2 separate regions of the Homo sapiens genome follow, and region 2 is linked to region 1. Evidence: fine-mapped expression QTL. Tissue or cell type: whole blood. Region 1 holds a variant in brackets; the other region holds the start of a gene. Each region is shown on its reference strand, or each on the opposite one.

What was found. PIP is the estimated chance that this variant, and not a neighbour inherited with it, causes the effect.
Region 2: CTSG starts here. The variant in region 1 is fine-mapped to the expression of CTSG in whole blood (TOPMed, PIP 0.97).

Annotation. Positions count from the first base shown.
Region 1 is chr19:830,609-840,744 of GRCh38, reverse strand. It overlaps AZU1 (azurocidin 1), which reads right to left. Exons shown (of 5, transcript NM_001700.5): 4 at 9,804-10,037; 5 at 8,727-9,029. The coding sequence ends at 8,868. Among named protein-coding and RNA genes, the nearest start is that of PRTN3, 5.3 kb to the left of the region's middle. The variant G/A (reference allele first, on the strand shown) is at 4,091.
Region 2 is chr14:24,571,130-24,581,265 of GRCh38, reverse strand. It overlaps CTSG (cathepsin G), which reads left to right and starts at 5,016. Exons shown (of 5, transcript NM_001911.3): 1 at 5,016-5,097; 2 at 5,854-6,001; 3 at 6,456-6,591; 4 at 6,767-7,021; 5 at 7,456-7,748. The coding sequence starts at 5,043. The coding sequence ends at 7,629.

The sequences.
Region 1 (10,136 bases):
TGCCCACGTGCCACCCACAAGGAGACGCCTCCCTGACGAGGTCCCTGTGGCCCCAGCAAAGCCGGCCGTGGCAGGTGTGTCCCGTGGGTGGGTGAGCTGGAAACGGACAGACAGCAGGACGTAGCAGGGGACAGGATGCAGAGCTCGGGAAGGCAGGGCCCCACCACGAGTGCCCTCAGTGCCTCACCTGAGGCCCCAGCGAACATCCTCCTGCCAGTTTTGTCTGGGGGTTTTCTTCCCCCTTTAAGGCCAGGATTCTCAATCAAGAGGTGATTCTGCCCCCAGGGGACCCTGGGCGAGGTCTGAGGACACCTGTGGCTGTCACGAAAGGGGAGCTCCTGGCATGGAGTGGGTGGAGGCCAAGGATGATGCCTAGCACCCTGCAGTGCCCAGGACGGGCCTGCCCCAGAGAAGGATCCAGCCCCGATGTCCACAGGGCCCAGGGGAGAGACCAGTGTTCATTATTTGGGGAAAAAAATGGCCAGGTGCGGTGCCTCACACCTGTAATCCCAGCACTTTGGGAGGCCGAGGCGGGTGGATCGCCTGAGGTCAGGAGTTCAAGACCAGCCTGGCCAACATAGTGAAACCCCATCTCTACTAAAAATACAAAAATTAGCTGCGCGTGTTGGCGGGCGCCTGTAGTCCCAGCTACTCAGGAGGCTGAGGCAGGAGAATCACTTGAGCCTGGGAGGCGAAGGTTGCAGGGAGCCAAGATCGTGCCACTGCACTCCAGCCTGGGCAACAGAGCAAGACTCCATCTCAAAACATAAATAAATAAAAATAAAAAATAAAAAATCCAGTCTGCCCCCTGCTCACACCGGACACCAGAATAAACTCCCGATGGGGCGTACGGCATAAACCCGGGGGACCCCAGCTCCCGGGACTCGCCTCCTCTCTCCCTCCCACTCAGGGTGTGGATTTCAATGTGTGCAGCCTCCTGGGACCTCAGCAGGGCAGAGGATCATGGGACTCAGAGTCTCTTGGGGTCTGTGGAATCCTCTAACCCTGGGGTGATTCTGCCCCCAGGGGTCCCTGTGTGAGGCCTGGAGACATCCGTGGTTGTCACGACTTGGAGGGAGCTCCTGGCAGGGCCCTGCAGTGCCCAGGATGGCCCCGCCGCAGAGACAAATCCAGCCCCCATGTCTGCAGTGCCGGAAACGGGGGAAAGCCGAGGACAGAGGATAAAATTATTTATTTATAACTGAACGGTTTAAACCTACAGTGAAATGGAGAGAAGCACTGAATGAACTTGGAGGCCAAAAAGAAAAAAAGCTTTTTAACGTTTCATTTGGAAAGGATTTCACGCTTACAGAAGTCCAAAGGGTCCAAACTCCCTCCCCGCTCCCCAAACTCCCTCCCCCGGCCTCCCTCCCCCAGCTTCCCTAAATTCTGTCCTCTTGCTCAACCCTCCAGGCTGTGATCGAAGCCAGGGCGCGAAAGTTGATTCCAAATGGCCCCCTCTGCCCCAGCCCCCTGAGTATCACCAGCCACCCTTTGCTGGGTCCTGGGTACACAAGCCACCCATCTTCAGATGTCAGGGTCTCCTCCAGCGGGCGCAGTCCCTCTGCCCTCCCTCAGCCCTTGGGACCATTGAGGAGAGCTGGTGGTCACTCTGCAGAGCGTCCCTCCGTGGGGATGGTCCTGGGTGGCCTCAGGACTCAATGGAGGGAGTCCCGGGCGTGGCGTGTGTCTGTCTCAGGCCCCCCACGTCGAAGCCCATGGCTTCGGCCTGTCTCGTGCTGATGGTAATAACCTTGACCACGTGGTCAGGGCATCTGCCGGTTCCTGCACTGTCCAGTTACTGTTTTCCCCTTTGGATTTTTTTTTTTTTTTGAGACAGAGTCTCGCTCTGTCACCAGGCTGGAGAGCAGTGGTGCGATCTCAGCTCACTGCAATCTCCGCCTCCCGGGTTCAAACAATTCTCCTGCCTCAGCCTCCTGTATAGCTGGGATTATAGACGCCCACCACCACGCCTGGCTAATTTTTTTTTTTTTTTGTATTTTTAGTAAAGACGGGGTTTCACTATATTGGCCAGGCTGGTCTCGAACTCCTGACCTCAGGTGACCCGCCCGTAATCCCGCCAAAGTGCTGGGAACACAGGTGTGAGCCACTGCACCTGGCTATATTAATGTATATAACATAGATGTATACATAAAATATGTAGCATGTATATTATTTACATTATATAATATATAATATTTTAAAATATACATATATATTTTTTGAGACAGGGTCTGGCTGTGTCACCCAGGCTGGAGTGCAGTGGTGTAATCATGGCTCACTGCAGCCTCGACCTCCTGGGCTCAAGCAATTCTCCTGCCTCAACCCCCCAAGTAGCTGGGACCACAGGCATGCTCCACCATGTCCAGCTAAAGTTTTTCTTTCTTTTTTTTTTTTTTTTTGGTTGGCTGTTTAATTTTTTGTAGAAATGGGGTCTTGCTATGTTGCCCTGGCTGGTCTTGAACTGCCAGCCTTCAGGGACGCTCCTGCCTTGACCTCCCCAAATGCTGGGATCACAGGCATGAGCCACCATGACCGACCTGATGTGTATTAAAGAACTAGAGCTGTGGGCCGGGCGCGGTGGCTCACGCCTGTAATCCCAGCACTTTGGGAGGCCGAGGCGGGCGGATCACGAGGTCAGGAGATCGAGACCATCCTGGCTAACACGGTGAAACCCCGTTTCTACTAAAAATACAAAAAATTAGCCGGGCGTGGTAGCGGGCGCCTGTAGTCCCAGCTACTCGGGAGGCTGAGGCAGGAGAATGGCGTGAACCCGGGAGGCGGAGCTTGCAGTGAGCAGAGATTGTGCCACTGCACTCCAGCCTGGGCGACAGAGCGAGACTCCGTCTCAAAAAAAAAAAAAAGAAAAAGAACTAGAGCTGTGGCCGGGCGCGGTGGCTGTTGCCTGTAATCCCAGCACTTTGGGAGGCTGAGGCAGATGGATCACAAGGTCAGGAGTTCAAGACCAGCCTGGGCAACATGGTGAAACCCCGACTCTACTAAAAATACAAAAATTAGCTGGGTGTGGTGGCAGATGCCTGTAATCCCAGCTACTTGGGAGGCTGAGGGAGGAGAATTACTTGAACCCGGGAGGTGGAGGGGGCAGTGAGCTGAGATCGCGTCACTGCACTCCAGCCTGGGCAACAGAGCGAGACACCGTCTCAAAATAAAAGGGTTATTCTCATTCAACAAAAGTGCTGTTGGTTTCAGCCATGAGTCAGCTCATGCTGAGGCAAGCTGTTTGGCTTGCAGTCCTCAGTTTCCCCACCTGTAAAGGCGGGTGAGGACGGTAATAGGACCTTCTGCAGGGCAGCAGTGGGGGTCGACGGATTTGAGGTTTCTTGATTTGTTTTTACATGGAGTTTTGTTCTTGTCACCCAGGCTGGAGTGCAGTGGTGTGACCTTGGCTTCCTGGGTTCAAGCCATTCTCCTGCGTCAGCCTCCTAAGTAGCTGGGATTACAGGCACCTGCCACCACGCCTGAATAATTTGTTTTTTGTATTTGTAGTAGAGACGGGATTTCACCATGTTGGCCAGGCTGGTCTCGAACTCCTGACCTCAGGTGATCCGCCGGCCTCAGCCTCCCAAAGTGCTGGGATTACAGGCGTGAGCCACCGCGCCCTGCCTTTTTTTTTTTTTAATAGAGAGGGGTCTTGCTATGCTGCCCAGGCTCGTCTGGAACTCCTGGGCTCCAGCGATCCTCCCCCACCATCTGGCCACTACCGAATTGTTAAGTGGGTGAATTGCTTGGTGTGTGTGAAGGACATCTCAATAAAGCTGTCAACCAAAAAAAAAAGAAAAGAAAGAAAAGAAAGACCTTGCACACACACTGCTGGATCTAGCACACGCGAGAGCTGCCCAGGGGGCTGCCCCGTCCTCACTGTACGTGGGCTTCCCCGTCAGGATCTGTTTCCACGCAAGGCTGATGCAGCCCGGTCCTGACCGGAGGGTCCCAGCACCGTCCCGCGGGCCCCGGGTCCTCCAGGCTCCCTGTGCGTCCTGGGGGGACTCAAAAGCACAGGCCAGGGCGACAGGAGCGCTGGGAGCGGGTAGCAGGGAGGGTTCCGTGGAACACGCTGGGGGCTTTGCAG[G/A]GGTCGGCCTGGGGGCAGAGGTAGTGGGGGCCCCTTCCTGTACCAACCGTAGGTGGCGCAACTGGTAACGGCTTCAGGGATCGCAGGTGACGCCGCCTGGGGCCGAGGGGAGACCCATGCGGGGCTCAGGCCTGTGTCTCTGTCTCTGTCTCTCTCCCCGCCCTCTTTCTGTCTCCTTCTCTGTCTCTGTCTCTGTCTCCCTCTGTCTCTGTCTCTCTGTCTCAGTCTGTCTCTGTCTCCCTATATCTGTCTGTCTCTTCATCTCTGTGTCTGTGTCTGTGTCTCTCTGTGTCATCGCTGTCTCCCTTTTTTAAAACTATCTCTCTCAGTCTCTCTGGCTCTGTCCCTCTTTTTCCGTCTCTCTCTGTCTCTGTGTCTCTGTCCGTCTCTGTCTCTCCATCTTTCTTGTTCTCTCTTTTTTCTCTCCTCTACTACTTTCTTTTTCTTTCTTTCTTTCTTTTTTTTTTTGAGATGAAGTCTTGCTCTGTTGCCCAGGCTGGAGTGCAGTGGCGCGATCTCGGCTCACTGCAAGCTCCGCCTCCTGGGTACAAGCGATTCTCCTGCCTCAGCCTCCTGAATAGCTGGGATTACAGGCGCCCACCACCACACCCAGCTAATTTTTGTATTTTTAGTAGAGACGAGGTTTCACCATGTTGGCCAGGCTGGTCTCGAACTCCTGACCTCAGGTGATCCACCCGCCTCGGCCTCCCAAAGTGCTGGGATGACAGGCGTGAGCCACTGTGCCCGGCCTCCTTTCCTCTCCTCTTTATAAAGGAAAACCTTCTCTCCCTGAGTGACGGGAAGATGCTGGTTCGCCCGCGAGGCTCAGCCTCGCAGTGGTTGTGTTTTGTGTGTGTTTTGTGCCGACCGTTGACCTTCCCGTGTGCTTGGGGCCCTGACACCCGGCCGCCTTCCACACCCCCCAGGCCCATCCACCCACCTGTCCCCTGATGCCCCCTCTCACGGGATTTCTAAGCCAAACCCAGACATTTCACAATCTGTTCTGAGAATTCCGAAAATTTAAAAACCTTCTCAAGACACCAGTGAGTGGGGCCGGGTAGAGGGGCACAGAGAAGAAACAGAACAGCTGTTTTTAGCCTGAGCACAGCTGGCTCTGCCAGGAGGCTGCACGCGTCGGGGCCTGGACGGGGCTGCGGGGTGGGGGCTGCACGCACGCGTCGGGGCCTGGACGGGGCTGCGGGGTGGGGGCTGCACGCGTCGGGGCCTGGACGGGGCTGCGGGGTGGCGGGTGGGTCCACGGATGGGACCCCGTTCTATGTCCCTGAAATCCGAGGCGCGGAGAGGACTCGGGCTGCCCACAGTCACACGCAGCCCCGCTCTGAGGGCCCTGCAGCCGGGCTGACCGCTACCAGGGGAACCCGAGAACAGCACCCTTGGGCCCAGGAAGGGGGAGCAGCAGGGGCTGGGGGGAGGAGGGCAGAAACCGCCTCTGGCAGGAATCCCGCCCCAGCAGGGGGACCCTCATGACCGAACGTGGCCCCGAGCCGGGGGCACCAGAAGCCCTTGAACCCCAATCCTGCCTTGGGCCTCAGTTTCCCCATCTGAACAATGATCAGGCAGTGGCTTTGCCTCTCCAAACCCAGGCAGGGCCCCCACCGGCTGGGCTCCTGAGCCATTGGCACCCCTCTCTAGGCTTAGTTTCCCCCTCTGTAAAGAGAACCCGTTGGCCGGGCGCGGTGGCTCACGCCTGTCATCCCAGCACTTTGGGAGGCTGAGGCGGGCGGATCACGAGGTCAGGAGATCGAGACCATCCTGGCTAACACGGTGAAACCCCGTCTCTACTAAAAATACAAAAAATTAGCCGGGCACGGTGGCGGGTGCCTGTAGTCCCAGCTACTCGGGAGGCTGAGGCAGGAGAATGGCGTGAACCCGGGAGGTGGAGGTTGCAGTGAGCCGAGATCGCGCCACTGGACTCCAGCCTGGGCGACAGAGCGAGACTCCGTCTCAAAAAAAAAAAAAAAAAAGGACCCGTTATACCCACAAAAGAAAGAAAAGCAGCAGTTCCAACACAAACCTGCACATGAGTGTCCACAGCAGTGAGGGTCACAGTGGCCGGAAGTGGAGAGGCTCAGACGTCCATCCACAGGGGCCTCGAGCAGCACAGTGAGGCCTCCAGGCGTGGCAACAGGACGCAGCCGTGAAACGGACCCAGCTGTGACCCGACCACGGCGCGGAGGCACCGTGAGGACGTCACGCTCCGTGAGAGACGCCGGACACGAAAGACCACATAGTGTGTGATCCCATTGCTATGAAATGTCCAGGACAAGCCCATCCACAGAGACAGGAAGAGGACGCGTGGGTGCCGCGGACTGGGGAGGGGACAGGGAGTGACGGCTGATGGGGACAGGGATTCCTTTGGCGGTGATGAAATATTCTGGAACTCAACAGAGGTCATGACCACACAACATTGTGAGTGTACCGAAGACCATTGAATTGCACACTTCATTTTATTTTATTTTATTTTTTATTTTATTGAGACAGAGTCTCACTCTATCCCCTAGCCTGCAGTGCGGTGGCTCAATCTTGGCTCACTGCAAGCTCCGCCTCCCGGGTTCATGCCACTCTCCTGCCTCAGCCTCCCGACTAGCTGAGATTACAGGTGCATGCCACCATGCCAGGCTAATTTTTTGTATTTTTAGTACAGACAGGGTTTCACCATGTTGGGCAGGCTGGTCTCAAACTCCTGACCTCAGGTGATTTGCCAGCCTCGGCCTCCCAAAGTGCTGGGATTATAGGTGTGGGCCACCACGCCCGGCTGTACACACTTTAAAAGAGTGAATTCTAAGGCCGGGCACGGTTGCTGAAGCCTGGGAGGCTGAGGCTACAGTGAGCCTTGATCACGCCACTGCACTCCAGCCTGGGCATCAGAGAAAGACCGTGTCTCAAAAATAAATGAAATAAGGTCAGGCGCGGTGGCTCACGCCTGTAATCCCAGCACTTTGGGAGGCTGAGATGGGTAGATCACCTGAATTCAAGAGTTCAAGACCAGCCTGGTCGACATAATGAAACCCCATCTCTACTAAAAAATATATATATATAAATTGGCTAGGCATTGTGGCTCACACCTGTAGTCCCAGCTACTCAGGAGGCTGAGGCAGGAGAATTGCTTGAACTGGGGGCGCAGAGGTTGCAGTGAGCCGAGATCGCGCCACTGCACTCCAGCCTGGGTGACAGAGGGAGACTCTGTCTCAAATAAATAAATAAATGAGATAAAAATAGCTCACTGCATCCTCAACCTCTTGGGCTAAAGTGATCTTCCCACTTTAGCCTCCTCAATAGCTGAGACTACAGGTTCTTCTTCTTCTTCTTCTTCCTTCTTCTTCTTCTTCTTCTTCTTCTTCTTCTTCTTCTTCTTATTATTATTATTATTATTATTATTATTATTATTATCATTTTAAGAGACTGGGTCTTGCTCTGTGGACCACGCTGGAGTGCAGTGGTGCGATCACGGCTCACTGCAACCTCCACCTCCTGGACTCAAGCAATCTTCCCACCTCAGCCTCCAGAGTAGCTGGGACGACAGGTGCCACTTACCCGGCTTTTTTTTTTTTTTTTTGAGACGGAGTCTTGCTCTGTCACCAGGCTGGAGTGCAGTGGCGTGATCTCGGCTCACTGCAATCTCCACCTCCCGGGTTCAAGCAATTCTCCTGCCTCAGCCTCCCGAGTAGCTGGGACTACAGGCGCCCGCCACCACGCCTGGCTAATTTTTTGTATTTTTAGTAGAAACGGGGTTTCACCGTGTTAGCCAGGATGGTCTCGATCTCCTGACCTCGTGATCCGCCCGCCTTGGCCTCCTAAAGTGCTGGGATTACAGGCATGAGCCACTGTGCCCGGCCTCTCCTGTGTAATTTTAATAATTTTAAAAATTATTTTTGTAGAGACATGGTTTCACTACGTTGCCCAGGCTGGTCTCAAACTCCTGGGCTCAAACGATGCTCCCACCTTGGCCTCCCAAAGTGCTGAGATTACAGATGTGACTGCCACATCCAGCCATCATATTCATATTTTATTCTGTATTATTTATATATACAATTATATTTATTATTTCATATTCACGTTTTACTGTTTCTATTGGATCCAAGAGGAGAATGTTCCCCGTTTTCTCCCGTGGTTTTTGTTTTTTTTTGAGCTGGAGTCTCGCTGTCGCCCAGGCTGGAGTGCAGTGGCGCCATCTCGGTTCGCTGCAACCTCCGCCTCCCGGGTTCAGGTGATTCTCCTGCCTCAGCCTCCCAAGTAACTGGGATTACAGGCGCCCGCCATCATGCCCGGCTAATTTTTGTATTTTTATAGAGATGGGGTTTCACCAGGTTGGCCGGGCTGGTCTTGAACTCCTGACCTCAGGTGATCCGCCCACCTCGGCCTCCCAAAGTGCTGGGCGGCATTCACTGTGTGACCTCTGGGCAGCCACCCAACCTCTCTGAACCTGGGCCTCCCCCCAACACCCCGCTGTCGGGTGCAGATAACACCAGCCCCTGCTTCCCGGGCTTTGAGGGAATCTCTGAACATCTGACATCTGCACAGGCAGTGCACCTGCGGTGGGTGCCCCTAAGGCCGGTGAAGGTGCCACTCACGCGTCCCCACAGCCCCCTCCCCCACCAATGAACAGAAACCAGGAGCAGAGGAGAGATCGGCTTCTTTATTACAGCCAGGGCCCCTCTGGCCGGAGCGGGGGCAGGGGCGGGGCCGTGGGAGGTGGGTGCGGAGCGCCGGAGGTGTGGAGGGCGGGGCTGGGCTCCATGGGAGGTCACAGGCCCCCCTAGGCTGGCCCCGGTCCCGGGTTGTTGAGAACACCATCGATCCAGTCTCGGAAGAGCGCCACTCGGGTGAAGAAGTCAGGGCCTCGGCCACAGGGCCCCAGGGAAAAGGAGGCCACGCCGTGGGCCAGGCCCTCGCAGACGAGGGGGGTGCCCCCGTCCCCCTGGGCAGGCAGCAGCTGTGTCAGGGCGTCCCAGGGCCTGGCTCCCACGCCACCCCAGAACTGCAGAGGCCTCTTGCTGCCCCTGGAACCTACAAGTCCTGATCCAGCCCCAGGGCCTTTGCATGGCTCTTCTCTTTCTCTGCCCTGGTTAACTGCTAGTGGACTTTGGGATCAGTTGCTTTCTGGAGCTTCCTGGCACCTCCAGGCTGGGCCAGGTGCCCCTCCCCTGGCAATCACACGCCTGAGTCCCTCAGTGACCGGCTCTACCATGCCTGCTGGGTCCCCAACCCCCAGCACAGACGTGGCTCACAGCCGGCGTTTGATAGCTACTGTTTCTCAGCCAGGCACGGTGGCTCATGCCTGTTATCCTAACACTTTGGGAGGCCAAGGTGGGTCGATCATGAGGTCAGGAGTTCGAGACCAGCCTGACCCACATGGAGAAACCCTGTCTCTACTAAAAATACAAAATTAGCCGGGCGTGGTGGCGCATGCCTGTAATCCCAGCTACTTAGGAGGCTGAGGCAGGAGAATCGCTTGAACCCAGGAGGCGGAGGTTGCAGTGAGCCGCCGAGATCACGCCACTACACTCCAGCCTGGGCGACAGAGCGAGACTCTGTCTCAAAAAAAAAAAAAAAGATACTGTTTCTCCTACCGTGAAAATGCTCAATCCTGGGGCCCCCCTGCTGTGCCGCCCTCAGCCTGCACTTGCTTTCTCCTGCCACGGAGAGCTCAGTACCTCTCAGGACCCCTCCTCCCGCCACAGGGAGCACTCACATTGCAGATGCCACCGCGGCGGGTGAGCACACCGGTGCACACGTTGTTGGGGCGACACTGGTCCTCGGGGGTCACAGTCACGTTGACAAACCTGGGAAAACGGGAGAGACGCCCCCCACTGCGCTGGCTCCCCCAGCCGGCCACCTGGCATCTGGTGCCGGCTTCCACCGTGGCGTTCTGCAGAGGCAGTGGCAGTATCGTCACGCTGCTGGTGAGGTTGGCCTCACGGTCCAGCTGGGGAAGGAAATGGAGTCAGGGGAGGGTGGCCCTGGGGACTGGAGCCTCATGGGGACCCCTGGGAGCAGAAGTGTCAGCGACATTAACTGTAGTCTG
Region 2 (10,136 bases), not on the chromosome of region 1:
CGAAGTGTTTCCAGTTTGAGGCTATCTTGAACATGCTGCTATGACCTTCTTGGACATGTATCTGGTAGAAATTTGCACCCGATGTTTCTCTAGGGTATATACCTAGGATTGGGAAAAGAGCCAACATGGTAGCTGCAACTGTTATTGCACTTTTTTCTTTTTTCTTTCCTTGAGACAGGGTCTTGTCTTGTCACCCAGGCTGGAATGCAATGGCACAATCATGGCTCACTGCAGCCTCAACTCCCACTTCAGCCTTCCAAGTAGCTGGGACTACAGGCACATGCCATCACACACAGTCTCGAACTCTTGGGCTCAAGTGATCCCCTCACCTTGGCCTCCCAAAGTGCTGGGATTACAGGCATGAGCCACCATACGTGGCCTTCATTGTGCTTCAAATGGGTGCTTCTCTAATATCTAGTCAGAGTAACACTTTTTCATGTTTATTGACCACTTCGATTTCCTGTTTTGAGATAAAACTGTTCAAGTCTTTTGGCTATTGTTTTATTAAGTTAATTGTCTTCTTCATTGCAAGTTTTTGTTTTGTTTTGTTTTGAGAGTCTCACTTTGTTGCCCAGTGAGGCAATCTCCACTTACAGCAACCTCAGCCTCCCCAGTTCCCCAAGCGATTCTCCTGCCTCAGCCTTCCGAGTAGCTGAAGTTACAAGTATGTGCCACCATCCTGGCTAATTTTTTTGTGTATGTTCCTAGTAGAGACAGGTTTTCACCATGTTGGTCAGGCTGGTCTCCAACTCCTGACCTCAAGTGATCGACCCGCCTCGGTCTCCCAAAGTGCTGGGACATGGGTGAGCCACTGCACCTGGCCAGATTTCTGAGTTCTTTATGTAATTTGAATATAAGCCCTTTGTTGTTTATGTGTATTTCAAGCATCTTTGCCTACTCCATGAATGGTCTTTTGTTTCTCTCAATTTAGATGTGTCAAATTCATCAGTCCTTTTCTTCATTATTAGTACTTTATATACAGTACTAAAATCTTTACCTATCATGAAGATATTCTTCCATTATATATTCAAATCATTATTCCTACTTGGATCCATAATCTACCTAGAATAGGTTTTTTGATATTTTGGGAGAAGAAGGTCAAGTTTTATTTTTCCACATAGAAAATATTTGTCTCTATAGGACACCATAAAGGCAATTTATTATCCCAGTACCATTTATTGGGGATAAAAAAAGAAAATAGTCTTTTCCCTATTATGATGAAAGATGCAACATCCATCATAAATCAATCCATCCATGTGTATGTCAGCGTCCACATGCGTGTGGAGTCCTTATTTCTGGTCCATTAGTCCATGTTTCTATGCCTCATCAATACCACGCTATCTTCATTCCCATGGCTTTGTTTGCAAAAGCAAGTCTTCCATCTTATTCTCATTCTCTAATGGTGACCTGGCTATCATTAGCCTTTTGTTTTCCAAATATACTTACAATCAGTTAAGTTCTATAAAATACCGCTCGGTGCAATGAATCTATATAGATCAATTTTGGGAGAGCTGACATTTTTACAATATTTAGTCTTCTTCCAATCTATGAACATGGAATCTCTTCATGTTTAGGTCTTCTTGAATGTCTCTTCATTCAGTTTTATAATTTTCACCAAAGAGGTCTTTCACATATTCTTTTAGATTTACATTTAGTTATTTGATCATTTCCATGCCATTTAAGTATTACTTTCTAAAAATTTCTTTCTAACAGTGTTGCAGTACATGTAGAAATATGATTAATTTTTAAATTGATTTTTTCTAGCAAATCTGTAAAACTCTTATTAATTATGGTAATTTACCTGTAGATGATTTTGGATTGTCTACGTATACTATCACTTCCTCAAATCATTACAATTTTGTTTTCTCTTTTCCTGTCTTTATACCTTTCATTTCCATTTCCTACCTAACTGCACTGGCTAAAACTGCTAATGTACTGTTTGTTGAACAGAACTGATAATAATTTGTATTCAGGCATTATTGTAATGTTTTGCTCTCAAAAAAAGGTTTTAACACTTTTCCATTAGGTATAATGATTGCTGTGGGAATTTTGTGATAACTTCTATCAGATTAAAGACACTCTTTTTATTCCTAGTCTGCTAAGAGTATTTTTTAAGTAAATAAGGGTAAATTTTAGGCCTTCATTGTTTCAATTAAATAATCACATGATGTTTCTTCTTTAGTCAGTTCATATGATGTGTTACAGCAATTTTGCTTTTCAAATGAAAAGTCAACTATGTGTTCCTAGAATAAACCCAAATTACTTATGATATATTAATATCTATTTGCTTATTGATTGATTTGGTTTGCATCAATATTCAAAAGTTTATTGACCTATAATGTTTCATTTCTATATTGTCTCTATTGGGTTTGGCATGGAGGTTATGCTAGTCCCATAAAGGGAAGGGTAGCATCCGTTCTTCAGAAGAAACTATATAGCATACTTTAAATATTTTCTACAGATTTCTCCTTAATGTGGTCATCAAAAACAAAAGTTGAAATTTTGTGGATTCAGCACATTCCCTTGGAACAATAGCAGCTTCCTAACTAGACTCTCATTATTCCTTCAACTTGATCTGATAGTCACTTCAATGCTGGTAGTTCTTCGAGGTTTGTAAGCTTTTTAGATATCTTAAATAGCTTTGATTACTTTTAATGAGAAGATTGCATGAAATTCTAGGTCACTATTAATGAAATTTCCTAATCAATCTTTATTACATGAGTGAATGCATATATTTTACTCCTTTTTTTTCATATGTGCAGGTTTTTCTTTATCCCTTTCTTCTATTTTTAAGTTAAACTAACATTTTTAAAACAAAACAAAATGTTGAAAATTTTTAATAAATTAAATTATGCCAAATGCTAAGGCACTAATAAAGGTGCTATACTATTCTCTCTTTGCTCCCTTCTTCTTCACGTTACTTTTCAGATGCATAAAGACGTTTTATAGAGCCTGTACAAGAGAAGAGGTTAAGCTCTGTGCAGCTCTAAAAATAAGTGAAAAAATTATATATTTATGTATAAGGAAAGGAACCCTAATTTTCATGAGATTTTCAAGAGGGCCTATTATACTCCATAAAGACTGGGAATTGTATCTCACACCAATCAGAATGGCTATTACTAAACAGCCAAAAAATAACAGATGCTGGCAAAGTTGCAGACAAAAGAGAACACTTATACACTGTTGGTGGGAGCAGTTCAACCATTGTGGAAAGCAGTATGGTGATTCTTCAAAGAGCTAAAAGCAGAACTACCATTCGATCCAGCAATCCCATCACTGGATATTTACCCAGAGGAATATAAATCATTCTACCATAAAGACACATGCACGCAAATGTTCACGGCAGCACTATTCACAAAAGCAAAGACACGGAATCAATCTAACTGCCCGTCAATAGACCAGATAAGGAAAATGTGGTACATATACATTGTGGTACATATACATATGCAGTCATAAAAAAGAATGGACTCATGACCTTTGCAGGGACATGGGTGGAGCAGGAGGCTATTAGCAAACTAATGCAGGAAACCAAATAATACATGTTAGTTAGCAAACTAATGCAGGAAACCAAATAATACATGTTCTCACTTATAAGTGGGAGCTAAATGATAAGAACTGTGAACACAAAGAAGAAAACAACAGACAGTGGGGTAAGAGGAGGGAGAGGAGCAGAAAAGATAACTATTGAGTGCTGGGCTTAATATCTGGGTGATAAATATGTACAACAAATCCCCGTAACATGTGTTTACCTATGTAACAAACCTTCACATGTACCCCCAAACCTAAAATAAAAGTTAAAAATAAATACCTAAGTAAAAGATTTTCAAAATAAAAGACAGAAAAAAAGAGATTGGGAATTGTATTAGTCTTCAATTCTGCTATTTCTGCAAAAATTATACTGGATTATAACGGTTTTCTGTGCATACACAGAATCTTCTAAATATTTTAAGTGTTTTTAATAATCCATTGTGTTACTCTGCAGTAATTTGCTGTTCTTTTCTCCCATTGTTGAGTATGCGGCTCTAATTCTTTTATAGGTAGCACAGCAATGAATGTACCTCCTTCTCAGAAGCTTTTGCTCCTGGGATTAGGTTGATGGGCCTCTAATGTCACCAGTGAAATGGGATATTAGATATTTTCCAGCTAGGATACGACAGCTCCCAATAAAACCAAATTACTAAGCCTTTTCTGCAAGCAAGGAGCCGTCTGGAACATAAGGACTTTAACCTTGGGTAGGAGACAGGCAAGCAGAAGTCTTCAATTGTGTCACAATTTTCACTGAGGACTCAAGTGACCTAAGAAAGTAATTGTGATTGTCAGAGCCTTGTTCTTCCTTTTCTTTCTCCAGCCGCACGCTTCACCTACTCAGGAGAGTGCCTACGCAATCTGACTTGACAGCTTCTAGAAAGAAATTAGAGCAACAGGGGTCTCAGCAGGGTGGTCTTGGGCCAAACACTGAAAGCAGGCAGGCTTACCCTTTCCTCTTCTGCCCCCTTCAACTTTTTCCTGATGTTCTTACCCACATCCCTCACCACACCACACCCTTTCATTCATCCTTGTCCCAGACTTATTAAGTATATACAGATAAGCAATCCAGGGAACTTGCATTCATTAGGAGAAACCCAGAAATTCAAAAGCAATAATGATCTAATCCCAGAGGAGTAGAAAACAGGAAGTGGGCAGCTGCCAGCTTTCTTGCTTTGCTGGAGTATTCTGGAATTTGATGGGTTGAGGGTTCTGGACACAATGCCCCAAGCCCCTTCCTTGTTGTGCTGGGTTCCTATTTCTGCTCTCGGCACTGACTTAGCAGCTGCTCAAGAGCTCACTATGTTGGCTTGGATTACACGGTCTCACCCACATCTCCGGCAGTTTGTGGGCAAACTTCCTGAGCAGCCTTGGGTGATGAAACCTTTCATGGTAGCAGGAGAATGGGACTGTGAATTCTCAATCCCCTGTCCCCACCCCTTCCTTCCTCTCTCAGGGCCTTAAAGTCTAGGAGGAGGAAGCACAGCAGCAACTGACTGGGCAGCCTTTCAGGAAAGATGCAGCCACTCCTGCTTCTGCTGGCCTTTCTCCTACCCACTGGGGCTGAGGCAGGTGAGTGACCATCCCCACCCTCAGAGGCCTGACCTCATCCCATAGATTCTTGAGCCAAATTGCCTTGGTATATCCTAATTCTGTACTGTTGAGCAAGTTATTTGAATTTGTGTTTCCTCATCTATAAAATGAGAATAATATTAATACCGATCTTGCAGAGTTGCCATGAGAGTTAAATAAGTTAGAGTATTTAAATGTCTTGGAATTGCCCGCACACTATAAGTGCTATAAAAACATGCTTTGTGTAAATAATTTGGCAGCATGTGTCAGACCCTACCTAGGAGGTAAGAATACAGCAATAACAGTACCATCAGCTCATGTCTAGATTTTTAAACACCAGTCCCACGTGGTCTTGAATTGGACTCAGAGGGCTCTGGGAAGCTCCATGAGGATAAAAGTATAAGGGAACTTCAGGAACAATCCTGTACTTACAGCAAAGCATTCTCCTCAATACCTGAGGCTGAAGCTGGCCTTGCCTGGAACAAGGGTTGTTCTCCCTCTTTTGGAGAGGAGGAGGGAGGTGAGGCCTAGGATGGGGAAAAGGGCTCCTTTCAAGACAGCAGTGTTTCCTGTAGAACCCTGGAGCCCCCTCCCAATCTGCTGCCCCATAGACTCCAAGCCTCAGCACCATCTCCTCCCTCTCCTGCACCCTCTCTCCTGCCGTCCCCATCTTCCAGCCTTTCTGGAGCCACCAATCTGGTACCCACATTGCAGGTTCAGCAAGCATAGAGCTAAGTGCCAAATGCTTCCTTCCAGGGGAGATCATCGGAGGCCGGGAGAGCAGGCCCCACTCCCGCCCCTACATGGCGTATCTTCAGATCCAGAGTCCAGCAGGTCAGAGCAGATGTGGAGGGTTCCTGGTGCGAGAAGACTTTGTGCTGACAGCAGCTCATTGCTGGGGAAGGTGAGGAGCTAAGGAACTTCCTGGCCAGCCAGGAACACAGCCCTGCGGAGCTCTTCGGTGGAAGAGCCATCTGAAAGAAGAGTTGTAGCAATGAAAGGGTGAAAGAAAGACCAAGTGAGTCTTTGCGGGAGGGAACAGGCCAGTGTAAATGAGGAGGAAAGGAGGATAAGATCAAAAAGAGCAAGAGGAAGAGATGGAAGACACATATTGGGGCTCAAAATATAAACTCAGGCTATTTATCAACTTAATCTGGGGAAGCAAACCTGAAGGCAAGTACCACCCTGTCATCCCTAGCTCAGAGCTGCTGAGAAAGAGGATACAGCTGAGCCCCAGGGCCCTCCCATCCCCTCGATTCTGGTTAGCTGCAGTCTTGCCCTCCCCGTGCTGTCTGCCTACCCTGCAGAGCTGGTGGACCATAGCTCCTGCAGCCCAGACCTACCTCTTGCTTTTGCAGCAATATAAATGTCACCCTGGGCGCCCACAATATCCAGAGACGGGAAAACACCCAGCAACACATCACTGCGCGCAGAGCCATCCGCCACCCTCAATATAATCAGCGGACCATCCAGAATGACATCATGTTATTGCAGGTACCACCTACCTGGCCCTCTGGCTCCTTCCTAGTGTGTCCGGGGACAATGGAGGAGGAAGTGAGGGCAAGGCTCCGGGGTGGCGGGGAGGGCATGGGATGTGTACTGCACCAGCGACCCCCGAGCCTTGGCTGGAGGCCCCAGCTGAGCGGGAACGCCTACATTCTTCCTCCAGCTGAGCAGAAGAGTCAGACGGAATCGAAACGTGAACCCAGTGGCTCTGCCTAGAGCCCAGGAGGGACTGAGACCCGGGACGCTGTGCACTGTGGCCGGCTGGGGCAGGGTCAGCATGAGGAGGGGAACAGATACACTCCGAGAGGTGCAGCTGAGAGTGCAGAGGGATAGGCAGTGCCTCCGCATCTTCGGTTCCTACGACCCCCGAAGGCAGATTTGTGTGGGGGACCGGCGGGAACGGAAGGCTGCCTTCAAGGTAAGGCATGGGCATTGGCCAACACACCCCGGGAGAGAGGGGCCCGTGCAGAGCCAGGCAGTGCGAACAGATTCCATCCCCACAGCCTCAGCCTGGCAGCCAGACCAGGGTGGGCTGGGGATTGTTTTCCCCATCAACCTGGTCTCTGGGGGAATAGGAGGAAGACCCACAACACATACATAGGCAACATTCTCCTGGAGAAGGGAGAGGTACCTTGACTCAGATTGGGCTGGAGACAGTAATTAAGGCAGAGCTGAAGTCCAGCGACCGAAAAGATCCAGAGGCTTGGCTCCTGTACCCCACCGATCTTCCATCTCACACACACCCAGCAATTGAAGGGGCCCACCCACCCCTGCCTTCCCTGAGAGCCCGGAGCTCAGGGAAGCAGGAGCAGGGAGGCCTGTCTCAGTCTCCCTTCTCCTCTCTACCTACAGGGGGATTCCGGAGGCCCCCTGCTGTGTAACAATGTGGCCCACGGCATCGTCTCCTATGGAAAGTCGTCAGGGGTTCCTCCAGAAGTCTTCACCAGGGTCTCAAGTTTCCTGCCCTGGATAAGGACAACAATGAGAAGCTTCAAACTGCTGGATCAGATGGAGACCCCCCTGTGACTGACTCTTCTTCTCGGGGACACAGGCCAGCTCCACAGTGTTGCCAGAGCCTTAATAAACGTCCACAGAGTATAAATAACCAATTCCTCATTTGTTCATTAAACGTCATTCAGTACTTAGTTTGTTTGGATTGCTACAACAAAATAGCACAAATTGGGTGGCTTATAAATAACAAATTTATTTCTCACAGGTCTAGAGGCTAAGAAGTCTAAGATCAAGTCACTAGCAGATTCAGTGTCTAATTAGGGCCCATTTTCTGGTTCACAGACAACCATCCTCTCCCTGTGTCCACATATGGCAAAAGGGGCAAGGGAATTCTCTGATGTCTCTTTTACAAGGGACCTAGTCTCATTCAAAGAGCTCAGCTTTTACGACCTAATCACATCCCAAAGGCCCCACCTAATGCCATCACATTGGGGATTAGGTCTGGGAAACATAGGGAAACACTGTCTCTACACAAAAATTTTAAAATTAGCCAGGCATGGTGGCATGTGTCTATAGTCCCAGCTACTTGGGAGGCTAAAGTGGAAGGATTAGTTGAACCCACGAGGTTGAGGCTTCAGTGAACCATGCACTCCAGCCTGAGCGACAGAGCAAGACACCATTCCAAGAAAGAAAAAAAAAAAGACTGGCAGGCCAAAAAGACAGAACTGAAATTCCAAAAAAAAAGACCTACTTTAGTGTATGAAAAAGGTGGCATCTCAAATCACTGGGAAACAATGGATTTTTAATAAATAGCATTAGAACAACTAGATAGATATTTGGAGGGGATGGAAGCTATAATTGGATCCATTCCTCACACCATACTTCAAAATAAACCTCAAATGGATCACAGATCTAAATGCAAAAACATTAAACCATACAAGCACTAGAATAAAGAAAAATTAAAGAGATTTTGCTTCTTTAAAAATAGCTAACAAACACCCATGTTAGTAACAGCATTAATCACAATAGCCAAGGATGGAAGAACCATAGCGTCCATCACCAGCCCGCATGCTTGTCCTAAACCTTGTGAAAGAAAATAGAATCTCAGGACCCAAACTTCACTATTCCAAAGGGAAAGTTAAGCTTGGGAACTGACCCATGGGGGGAAAAAAACTGCTTTCTATTTATTTCCAAACAGCTATAATCCACAATCCTGTGGCATCACCTCATTTCCTCTACTTGCTTTTCCACATGTTTACTTTATCTTGTGTAAGATGTAGATTTACTGAGGCTAATCAGAACCTCACAAGAACATAACCATCTGCCTGAAGTCCTACTCTCTCTCCCATTTTTACCTTCCTGCTTGCTCTTTCCCCTTTAAATACTGAAGTTCCTAAAACCCTTTAGGGAAAAGCACAGGTCATAGATGCTCCTGTGGCTTGTATTTTTTCCCCAGGTGCATCTTCAACCTTGGCTAAATAAACTTCTGTTAGATTGAGACCTATCTCAGTCACTTTGTGGTTTATAGCCCTTCCTTGCGCTATACCAACCCCACTGTACTTATAAGCCAGCATTTTCCTCACCAATGTGATGAAGATCTGTCTGAGAACTTTTGATACTCTGAAGGTATATAAAACACCTCACAAAATGTTGACCTAAATAACAATACATTTGCCCTGAAGATTAGCCCATGACTGTCTACATCAATATTATATTCAAACAAAAGATTACTGAAATCACATAATTTAAAATTAAGCTTTAAACACCTGCTGAAAGTAACTACACAGAATCAGTCAGGAGGTTTTCCTAGGTAAGTAGAAATGTTAATTACTCCTTTCAGTGTGACATTTACCATCTGAACTTTTGCAGTTTTCCTAATCTTAAATGAAATAATCCCTGAACAGACATTTTATCAAATCCAACAGGCTATATACAGAAATGCTTTGATGAATTTGACCATTATTTTATGTGTATCTCTTATCAGAAAGTTATTTGTCTAATATTCAGTGTAAGCCATTTATCAACAAAATTTTAATCAATAATACATCTTTAACAATCCTCAGTCATTCTCTCTGTATTTACTAACTGCCTACCCATAAGAATTATCTATTACTGGCATGCTCTGGGGGATAACAGTCTCATTATTAAATGTTTGCACTGACAAATGGAAAGAATACTTGCTAGTAGAAAAGTCCCCCATTCAGCCCTTCCTCCCTGTGGCATTTACTTAGGGCCTCAGAGCACTGCCCAGTCTCAGGACTCAGTCCCCAGGAAGCCCCGAGGGCATTCATCTCATCTTCAGGTCTTTCTCTGCCAGTCAGCACTTCCAAGGCAGCTCTTTGTCTCTGCTGCCCTACTGAAAAGGTCTCTACAGACCCCAGGGTACTCACCTCCAGAAGGTGACCATCCCAGAAGCCAGATCCACCACTTCTAACAAATCTGCACTCTTCCCTGTTGAGTAAACCTCATCAGCAGAACTTTGGCAAGAAAGCATTTTGCACAATGAAAACCAGTGCAAAAGAACACAATTCTTTCTTTTTCCACGTGCAGACTTTGTGCGTTAGAAGCCTTATCAACTTGAA